3 linked regions of the Homo sapiens genome follow. The protein of the gene in region 2 interacts with the protein of the main gene of each other region in a pairwise test. Each region holds a gene or a part of one and is shown on either strand. Other genes may lie near its edges.

What was found.
Region 1: the proteins of VDAC1 (region 2) and KLHL40 interact in a two-hybrid assay, tested with the Homo sapiens proteins (one large-scale study listed by BioGRID).
Region 3: the proteins of VDAC1 (region 2) and CDK1 interact in binary tests that used the Homo sapiens proteins (3 or more experiments, as listed by UniProt).

Annotation. Positions count from the first base shown.
Region 1 is NC_000003.12:42,688,537-42,691,025, forward strand, and holds part of KLHL40 (kelch-like protein 40), read left to right. Parts: intron 1-73; coding exon 74-181; intron 182-332; coding exon 333-518; intron 519-2,322; coding exon 2,323-2,469; intron 2,470-2,489. UniProt on the Homo sapiens protein: Substrate-specific adapter of a BCR (BTB-CUL3-RBX1) E3 ubiquitin ligase complex that acts as a key regulator of skeletal muscle development.
Region 2 is NC_000005.10:133,987,906-133,991,640, reverse strand, and holds part of VDAC1 (non-selective voltage-gated ion channel VDAC1), read left to right. Parts: intron 1-486; coding exon 487-639; intron 640-733; coding exon 734-786; intron 787-2,397; coding exon of another isoform or gene 2,398-2,506; exon of another isoform or gene 2,507-3,723; intron 3,724-3,735. UniProt on the Homo sapiens protein: Non-selective voltage-gated ion channel that mediates the transport of anions and cations through the mitochondrion outer membrane and plasma membrane.
Region 3 is NC_000010.11:60,784,978-60,788,477, forward strand, and holds part of CDK1 (cyclin-dependent kinase 1), read left to right. Parts: intron 1-686; coding exon 687-810; coding exon of another isoform or gene 811-822; exon of another isoform or gene 823-2,092; intron 2,093-3,082; coding exon 3,083-3,253; intron 3,254-3,500. UniProt on the Homo sapiens protein: Plays a key role in the control of the eukaryotic cell cycle by modulating the centrosome cycle as well as mitotic onset; promotes G2-M transition via association with multiple interphase cyclins.

The sequences.
Region 1 (2,489 bases), on a different chromosome or scaffold from region 2:
ATGGGTGCAGAGACAGGGACTGAGCCGAGCCTGGATGGGTGCCCTCCCCCACCCCCACTCCCGTCTCCTCCAGGTCATTCAAATGGGGTGAATCGGACCCGCTGCCTTACGTGGTGTATGGCCACACAGTGCTCTCCCACATGGACCTTGTCTACGTAATTGGCGGCAAAGGCAGTGACAGGTGAGGCTGGGCCTGGAGTGAGTCTGTGGAGCAGAGGTAGAATCTCCCAGAGGCTGTCAGGGGTTTGTCCTGGCTGCCCCGGCAGGTGATTGCAGGGAGGCGTGGCTGGGCTCCTGCTTCTCTCCACCCATCCCCACCCTCCACCCCACAGGAAGTGCCTGAACAAGATGTGCGTCTATGACCCCAAGAAGTTTGAGTGGAAGGAGCTGGCACCCATGCAGACCGCCCGCTCACTCTTTGGGGCCACTGTCCATGATGGCCGCATTATCGTGGCAGCTGGGGTCACCGACACAGGGCTGACCAGTTCTGCCGAAGTGTACAGCATCACAGACAACAAGTATGAAAGCTTGTCCCTTCCGCCAAGGACAACTGCATGGCTTTGGGCTTCTGTCAGCCCCAGCAGGAGCTGCAGTCCCTGTCTTGGGTCTCCAGTGTTGACTTTGGACATCAGTATAGAAATAGGCTTTCTCTCCTGATCAGCAGTGAGGTGGGGAGGCGGGGCAAGGGTTATGGCCAGCCTGGTCTGCAGGAGGGGGCTCCCAGGGCTGGGGGAGGGGATGCCAGGTTCCTCATTCAGGGACTCATACCAGGCAATGGCCTGGTGCAAGGGATATAGCAGTGAACAAGACAGAAGCTGCCCTGCCTGGGACATCAGAAAAGAGAAAACTGAACTGAGAGACAGTTGGACTCAGCTCGCAAAAGGGGTGAGGGTGGTGGGAGGAGGTTGCCCCAGACTAAGGAAAGGTGGTGCTGAGGCAGTTTGGAGAAAAAACTCAAGGCCTATAGGAGGGAAGGTGTTGCTCCAGCTGGGTGGAGGTGGGTGGGTGATGGAGTTGGGATGGCGGTGCTGGGGCTGGAGCGGGGGCCAGCAGGAGAGGGACTGTATCTCATCTGTGTTCTACTAAAGTACTTCATGGCAACTGATATAGAGAGCAGATTAGGGATTTCCCAGGGGTCAGGAAGGTCAGGGGTGATAAAGGCCTGGAGCTGGGGGCACAGCGGAGATGGGGTTGAGGGGATGCACCGGACAAAGACAGGCCAGGGCTTCTTACACTGTGATGGGCATGCAAATCTCCTGGGGATCGCCTTAAAGTGCAGATTCTGATTCTCGGTATGCGGAGGGCTGAAAGCCTGTAAGTCTGCATTTCTAACGCACCCCCAGGAGATGCTGACGCTGCTGGGCCATGAACCACACTTTGAGTAGCAAGAGTCTAGGAGGTGGGAGAAACAGGGCTTAGCTATTGATTGGATGTGGGGGTGAGAGGGGGAGAAGTACATGCTTCTGAGTGAGGGTGGGAGGCCATTTACTGGATAATCATTGGGATTGGGTAGGGAAAGTGAGGGTCCAGTTAGGACATGTGGACTTGAAGTACCTGGGGGTGTCCAAAAGGACCCCACCCGGGAGAGAGAGGGCTGAGCTGGAGGGAGAGATCTGGGGGTCAGTAGCACACGGAGGGGCCAAGCTCCCTCAGGAGAGAGAGTGTAAATGGGAGGAGCTGAGGTCCAAGCCCTGATGGTGGAGGCAGCTGCATTATCCAGGAAGGAGGCCACGAAGGTGAGGCCGAAGAGATGGGTGAGGAAAGTCACGTCAGCAGGGCTGTGTGCTGTAGGACCTCAGTGCGTGTGCAGTGACTGTGGACCTCAGGAAGGTCAGTTTTGGAGGATGGGACTAAGGCCCAAGGCAGGAGCCAGGGTAGCGAAGATACATTGAGAACAACTGGGCTGTGAAGGGAGAAGAAGGATAGAGCAGGTGTGCAAGGTGGGTGGGGCTGCAGGGGCCGCTGAGGGGCAAAAGGACTGCGTCCAGGGCAAGGCTGGGGGCCTGCTAGGGGCTGGGGTTGTGAGTTGGAGGGTGGAGTTAGTTCAGGAGAGGAGTAGGGGCAGTGGGGAGATCCATGGTGGACTTTGCTGGACAGGTTGGATAGAATGGCAAGAGGACAAGGAAAGGAAAGTGGAGGAGCAAGAGAATGGGGAAGGAAGGGAAGACCAGAGGGACAGGGAAGGGGAATGGGGTTGGGGGCATGGGTGCCTGGGACTTGGATTGCAAAGGGTTGCAGTTGGAGCTGTGGGTGCTGGGTGGCAGGGACAGTCACTGGGCTTGCCGAGGCATCCCAATGATGCACCTTCTCACACACCCCCAGGTGGGCACCCTTCGAGGCCTTCCCACAGGAGCGTAGCTCACTCAGCCTGGTCAGCCTGGTGGGTACCCTCTATGCCATTGGTGGCTTTGCCACACTGGAGACGGAGTCTGGAGAGCTGGTTCCCACAGAGCTCAATGACATCTGGAGGTGAGTCCCACCCTGGGGAG
Region 2 (3,735 bases):
GGAGAATGGGTCAGGTCTCAGTTTTAGTTTTCCTTGTGCTTCTTATTTTCAAATTCACCTGCATTCAACCACATAAGTGTTTTTAAAGTAATCTTAGTAGTCCCTTTGAAATTATGTGTGCAGTAATTGTTGGAAGAAAGAAGTTTTGGGTTTGAATTACCGCTGTGTCAGCTTTAGCTCAGTGCTTTTTCTCTGTACTGCCCTGGAGCCAGGATGGAAGGGAGATGCTTTCCTGTCCAGACTGAAGAGTTACAGGGAGGAAGGAAGCTGTCTGCTGACAACAAATTCCCCATAAGATTTCTTTACATAGCAGGCTCCTTTACTCCCATCTGTACTTTAAATATCTATTTGAATTGTAGAGTTAGCCTTGGCCCCCCCACATTCAGGGTCTTGCCTCTTGCAGAAAGGCAAGTATAGTGTTTAGGAGTGAAGTGAAGCCAAGTGAGTGCTATGGTGCAGGCTGTGACTCTTCTCTCTCCTTTGAAGGAATTTACAAGCTCAGGCTCAGCCAACACTGAGACCACCAAAGTGACGGGCAGTCTGGAAACCAAGTACAGATGGACTGAGTACGGCCTGACGTTTACAGAGAAATGGAATACCGACAATACACTAGGCACCGAGATTACTGTGGAAGATCAGGTAATGGCTGCTGTGAAAAGATGTGGATTTATTAATTCGCATCTGCCAGCCTGCCTTGTGACTAAATCTAGTGGCAAATTTCTTTTCTGTTCAGCTTGCACGTGGACTGAAGCTGACCTTCGATTCATCCTTCTCACCTAACACTGGGTAAGAGTTTCATCTGTTTTCTCCACAAGGATGTTCTCTGATGTTGCAGGTGGTGGAAGCCCTTTGTGACAAAATGTTTTGGGGGCTGACAGCACCTAAAATATGGTCTCCGAGACCTGGCGATTTAAGTCCTCTGGTTTTGATTTGGTCCCAGGGGTCGTATCCACATCTATGCACTAACAGACTATGCTATAATGAGCACTTCCTAATTCAGGACTGGTGTTTACCCAACAAACGATTTCTAAGTGCCACCTGTGCTTGGCCCTGTGCCCATCTGGAGATCTAAGGGTGCCCAGGCCATGATTGTTACCCGCCAAGGAGCTCACTTTCTAATAGAGGATTCAGACCAGTGTTTAGCCGTGTTTTGTAATAAGATTCTGCATTTTGTTAGTGTTCTCCTAGTTTCTGCCATGGAGGTTGCAGGATTTCTGTTCAGTAATAGCCATTTCATGTGAGTTAGGCTGCTGGTGATGTAAGTGGCTATGACCAAACGGGAGTGGGTGACATTTGGAAGCAGGGCCTAACTGGTCACTGTTGCCAGCCTCATTTCTTCAGGCATGGAAGTCCTTCTCCCAGCTTCCTGCTGCTTAGGGACACTGAGACCCTGTGGGTGTAACTGCAAGGTGGCTCCTGAGGCTGCACTTTCCCCAGGCCTTCTGGCCACAGATGTAATAGGCTTGTTAGTTCTTGACCATCACTTGGCATGATAGCATGGTAGTCTGCCTCAATTCCTGGGTGCTTTTCAAAGTGCCTAGAAGGAATTATTCCCTTTTAGAATACACCCTTGTTTTTTTCCACTCATATTGGTGGGTCTTCCAAACCTGGGGAAGATGTTTTATATAGTGATGTTAGGGTCAAGGGCATGTACTGAATTTCAGTTTTTAAAAATTGTGGGCCGGGCGTGGTGGCTCACGCCTGTAATCCCAACACTTTGGGAGGCTGAGGCAGGCAAATCACCTGAGGTCGGAAGTTTGAGACCAGCCTGACCAACGTGGAGAAACCCTGTCTCTACTAAACATAAAAATTAGCTGCGCCTGGTGGGCGCATGCCTGTAATCCCAGCTACTTGGGAGGCTGAGGCAGGAGAATCGCTTGAACCTGGGAGGCAGAGGTTGTGGTGAGCCAAGGTGGTGCCATTGCACTGCACCCTGGGCAAGAAGAGCGAAACTCCATCTCAAAAGAAAAAAAAAAAAAAGAGTCGGATGCAGTGACTCATGCCTGTGATCCCAGCACTTTGGGAGGCTGAGGTGGGTGGATTGCTTGAGGTCAGGAGTTTGAGACCAGCCTGGGCAACATGGCAAAACCCCATCTCTAATAAAAATACAAAAATTAGCCAGGCATGATGGTGCGTGCCTGTAGTCCCAGATACTTGGGATGCTGAGGCATGAGAATCGCTTGAACCCAGGAGACAGAGGTTGCAGTGAGCTGAGATCGCACCACTGCACTCCAGCCTGGGCTACAGAGAGAGACTCTGTCTCCAAAAAAAAAAAAAAATTGTGGTAAGATATACATATAAAACTTAACATCTTTAAGTGTGTAGTTAAATGGCACTATGAATTTTTCAGTTTTGCCATTCATTTTTTTTCTTTCTTCCTTTTTTCCTTTCCAACAGATATTTATTAGAGGGAGGATCTACCAAGTGCAGACCTGTGCTGGGTGTGCAGTGCACACAAGTGACTGGGCACACATGGTTCCTATCCTCTGGAGATGTCGTCTTATAGCTTGGCTATAGATGATCTGAAGAGACCATTGTTACGGGGCTGATTTACTCTCATTCCTCTTCGCTGCTGTAGTTTCTCCTGCAAGAGCACTGCCTTTTTGCAGTGCTGTGCACTCTCCCCCCAGGAACTCTGCCATGGTATCAGGGAGCGGTTATCTGGAAAGATCCTGGGATAGGATGAGAGGCTGGAGGATGTGCCCACATGCTTGAATTTGCTGCCTGGGACTTTGCCTGCTGCCCTGGGATAGCACACTTTGGAATTTGTAGGTGATTTCCTTCCCATGACCTTAGGGAGCTTTGCAGAGGTCTCCAGGCCATGCAGTATAAAACACAAAGGAAAGTTTTTTGGTTTTTTTTTTTTTTGGGTTGAGGGGGACGGAGTCTTGCTCTGTCGCCCAGGCTGGAGTGCAGTGGTGTGATCTCAGCTCACTGCAACCTCCTCCTCCCGGGTTCAAGTGATCCTTTTGCCTCAGCCTCCCAAGTAGCTGGGACTACAGACACGGGCCACCATGCCTGGCTAATTTTTGTATTTTTAGTGGAGACGGGGGTTTCACCGTATTGGCCAGGCTGGTCTTGAACTTCTGACCTCGTGATCCACCTGCCTCGGCCTCCCAAAGTGCTGGGCAGATTCATGTGTTTCTCCTGCCTCAGCCTCCCGAGTAGCCGGGATTACAGGAATGCACCACCACACCCAGCTAATTTTGTATTTTTAATAGAGACAGGGTCTCTCCATGTTGGTCAGGCTGGTCTTGAACTCCTGACCTTGGGTGATCTGCCCACCTCAGCCTCCCAAAGTGCCGGGTTTACAGGCGTGAGCCACTGCACCTGCCCCCCTTTTTTTTTTAATTTACTTTTTATTTCAAAATAATTTTATACTTAGAAAAAAATGTGGCAAAAATAGTATGCAGAGTTCTCCTGTGTTCTTCACCCAGCTCCTAATGTTAATGGTTTACGTAACTATAATGATCAGAATCAGCAAGTTAATGTTGATATCATATAGTTAATTAATCTGTTGTCACAATGACGTCTTTTTTCTGATCTGTGATCCAGTTCAGGTTCCTAAATTGCATCTAATTGTTAAGTCTTCTCTAATCTGGAATATTTTCTGACTCTGACACTTTTGAAAAAGAGTGGCCAATTATTTTGTTAAGATGTCCCTCAGTTTGGATTTGTCTGATGCTTCCTTATGATTAAATTTAGGTTATGCATTTTTGGCAACTGTAGTTGTTG
Region 3 (3,500 bases), on a different chromosome or scaffold from region 2:
GAACCCTATTTTTGGTAGTTGAGAATGCCGCACATATGTAAAAGAGAACAGGCTGTTAAAGCAGGAACAGAGTTGGAGGAGCTGGGTGATGTAGATTAATATTTGGGCCTAGAATAGCAAGGTAAATTGGCCATGGGAGTAAAGCCGTTTTCATAGAGCTTTGTCAACTCTCTCCTACTTGGGGAGCTCTAGTTCCTGAAGACCCTTTAGTTAGAGTCTTAAGAAAAGTAGCTAGGTCAAATGAAAAAGATTTTTTTTCCTTAAAGTATTTGCATTGGGTGTTTTTGGAGACCTGTCTTCCTAACAGTCCAAGTTAAAATCTAATTGTACTTGGCTGGGGCTAGAGATTGGAAGTAGCTTTTAAGGTCAGATACCACTTTAAAATTTATTTGTATAATTCACTTCAGTGAAAAAATAAGCTCTCAGCAATTAGTAGCCAACCTAGATATGTTCTTTTGAATACAGGCTCCTTATAAATAAGCACCTCCTGTACAAGGCTTAATTTTAAATAGTTGCCCTGAGATTCCTTTCTTAAATTTGAGTTTTGAGTCTCTTCCATTAGGGAAGCTACTACGTCTTCCCCAGTTTTTATTATAGCAACTGAAATTATGGAAGGAGTTTTATTTTGTGAAACAGAGGTCAAAAATGTTTGCTGGATTCTTCTCTCATATATTTTTTTTCCCCAGTCTTCAGGATGTGCTTATGCAGGATTCCAGGTTATATCTCATCTTTGAGTTTCTTTCCATGGATCTGAAGAAATACTTGGATTCTATCCCTCCTGGTCAGTACATGGATTCTTCACTTGTTAAGGTAAAAGCTTAACTAATTTTATTAATATTTATGCACTGTGGATATAAAGGGACTATATATAGAAGTCCCTGCATTTTGTGGGAATATGCTTGGAAAAAGTGTTAGAATAAGAAAAAGTATTTCATTTTTCTCCCTCATGGTTAGTTTATACAGGTTAGAGATACCCATGTTATTACCAGATAGTGTTTCTAGTAAGTAAAAATTAGTGCCTGAGATAACATAGAACTGGTAGGTATTGTTGGAAGCTAGGGTAGTCTGGTCTTTCTTTGGCTGTCAGATACATGTAAAACAAAGTAATGAAAGCCTAGGGCAGAGTGGTGGTTGTAGGTGTTTTATTCCAGTTTTGAACATGTTTTGGTCAATTTATTGTAGACATTTATTATATTTCAGGTAAATTATAAAATTGTATAGTTTTAAGTACTGAAGTATATAAAAGTGTCTTATTCTTGCACCAGTTCTACCAAACCACTCTGCAGAGGTAGCGCTGTTAGTTTTATTTGTAATCTTACACTTGTATGTATGTTCACTTTGTATGTATATAAAGATTTTTTTTTTTACACAAGGTGGACTTATTTGCATATGTATATATACATATTTTCCCTTTTTTGTGTAAAACATTATCAAGACGTAGATCTACCTATGTCTATTTACATTTTTGATATAATTAAACCACTTCCATATTGATGAACATTTAAATTATTTTCCAACTTGGTTATTGTTGCTCTTATTAACAGTACTGCACTGAATGTCCTTATAGATATTTATCTTCGTATGCAACTTTATAGGATAAATTTTTAGAATGGGAATGATGGATTGAAGATGTTTATTTACATTTTGATAGATATTGCCGGTTGCCCCCTAAAAAACTTGTAGCAATTTACTCTTAAATACTCATGGTGTGTAATACTTATTGTTTTAGTACATCATTGCCAAAACTTGGTTTTATCAATCTGTTAACTATGTGAAAAAGGCATATTAAGATTGTTTTAATTTTATATTTCATGACAATTTAACACTTCATATTTAGCTATTATAAACCGCCTATATTTTCGTTAGGATACGTTCTTTAACAATCTTGCATGACTTTTGGACTTTCTGCTTTTATGTCTTGCTTAAGTCTTCCTCACTCAAAGATCGAATGTATTAGAATAATACATGTCAGTATTTTTCTGGTAGTTTTAGTAAGTCCTGTCTTCCACACATACTTTTTTTGTCTTAAATTCTGTATTAAGATTTATTTTGACTTAAAAACTGGGATACAGATTCTGCTTTATCTTTTTCCAAATGGCTAGCCAGTTGTTCTAACTGGTTTTATGTACAGGCAACAATGGTTTTACTTACAATTTTTCAGTTTTACAATGAAGCAGAAATGATGCACATTCACTAGAAACCATACTTCATTTACCCATACAACCATTCTGTTTTTTCACTTTCAGTACAGTATTCAATAAATAATGAGGTATTCAACACTTCCAACTATATGCTAATGTAAGTGTTTTGAGCACAATTAAGGTGGGCTACGCTTAGCTACGTTTGGTAGGTTAGGTGTGTTCAATGCATTTCGACAAGGTATTTTCAGCTTAGAATGAGTTTAACCAGATGGATCATCCGTTTTGTTTTGTTTTTTGAACACCACTTGTCCCTCTAAGATGGAGCATCTGTATTACTTTCCAATTTCAAACTGTAAGTCATTTTTCTGTGTACTTTGTTTTTGTAATATCCATGCTACTTCAGATGTCAATGACATTGTCTTTGGCAACAAATGTCTTGTAAAGCACTTTTCTCTGAACTAAGCAGCATTTTATGATAATTTTATCCATTGAAATATATAATCATAATATCTTTGCCATCACTTTTAGAATCTAATTTTTTCAAGAAGGAAATGAATATGTAAAAATGAAAGATAGAAAAGGCCAACTGTATTGAAGATACAAAATAGAGTTGGTAGCGGTATATAGAAGAAAAATCAAGAGGCTTCTGTGTAGAAAACCAATTTGTAATTTAAGGATCGGGGACCAAAAATGTTTAAAGACTAAATGTGTTCACATTACTATAGATATGTCTATAAGGTGAAGATTCTTTTCTTAGGTATACAAATGTGATGTTGTATATAAATGGGCTTCCCACCCACAAATGCTTATTAGCCTAAAATGGCCTGAAAGCTCTAGTAATTAAATTATTTCTCTGCGTCCTAATTTTTTGTCTTTGAAACAGATTATTTAGAAAATCATGTACTTCGCTTAAGTTTCTAACTTTTACTTGCTTTTTCCAGAGTTATTTATACCAAATCCTACAGGGGATTGTGTTTTGTCACTCTAGAAGAGTTCTTCACAGAGACTTAAAACCTCAAAATCTCTTGATTGATGACAAAGGAACAATTAAACTGGCTGATTTTGGCCTTGCCAGAGCTTTTGGAATACCTATCAGAGTATATACACATGAGGCAAGTGGAATAGTGGTTTTTGATGGCTTTTGAATGTGTGTGATTGCTAGATTATTTTCTGTATTTGTGAAAGTCAAGAAATAACTCAATAAAAGATATCTACTCTGTGGCAGTATCAATTTATTGCCTCTCAGCTCCAAATTCATTGCATGCTATGTGAAAATGGAACTGAAGCCTTTAAGTATTTTTTCTTTACCAGCTGCTATGTTGTTAAGGTAGAGGGTACTAGAGGGACATGGCAGGAGGA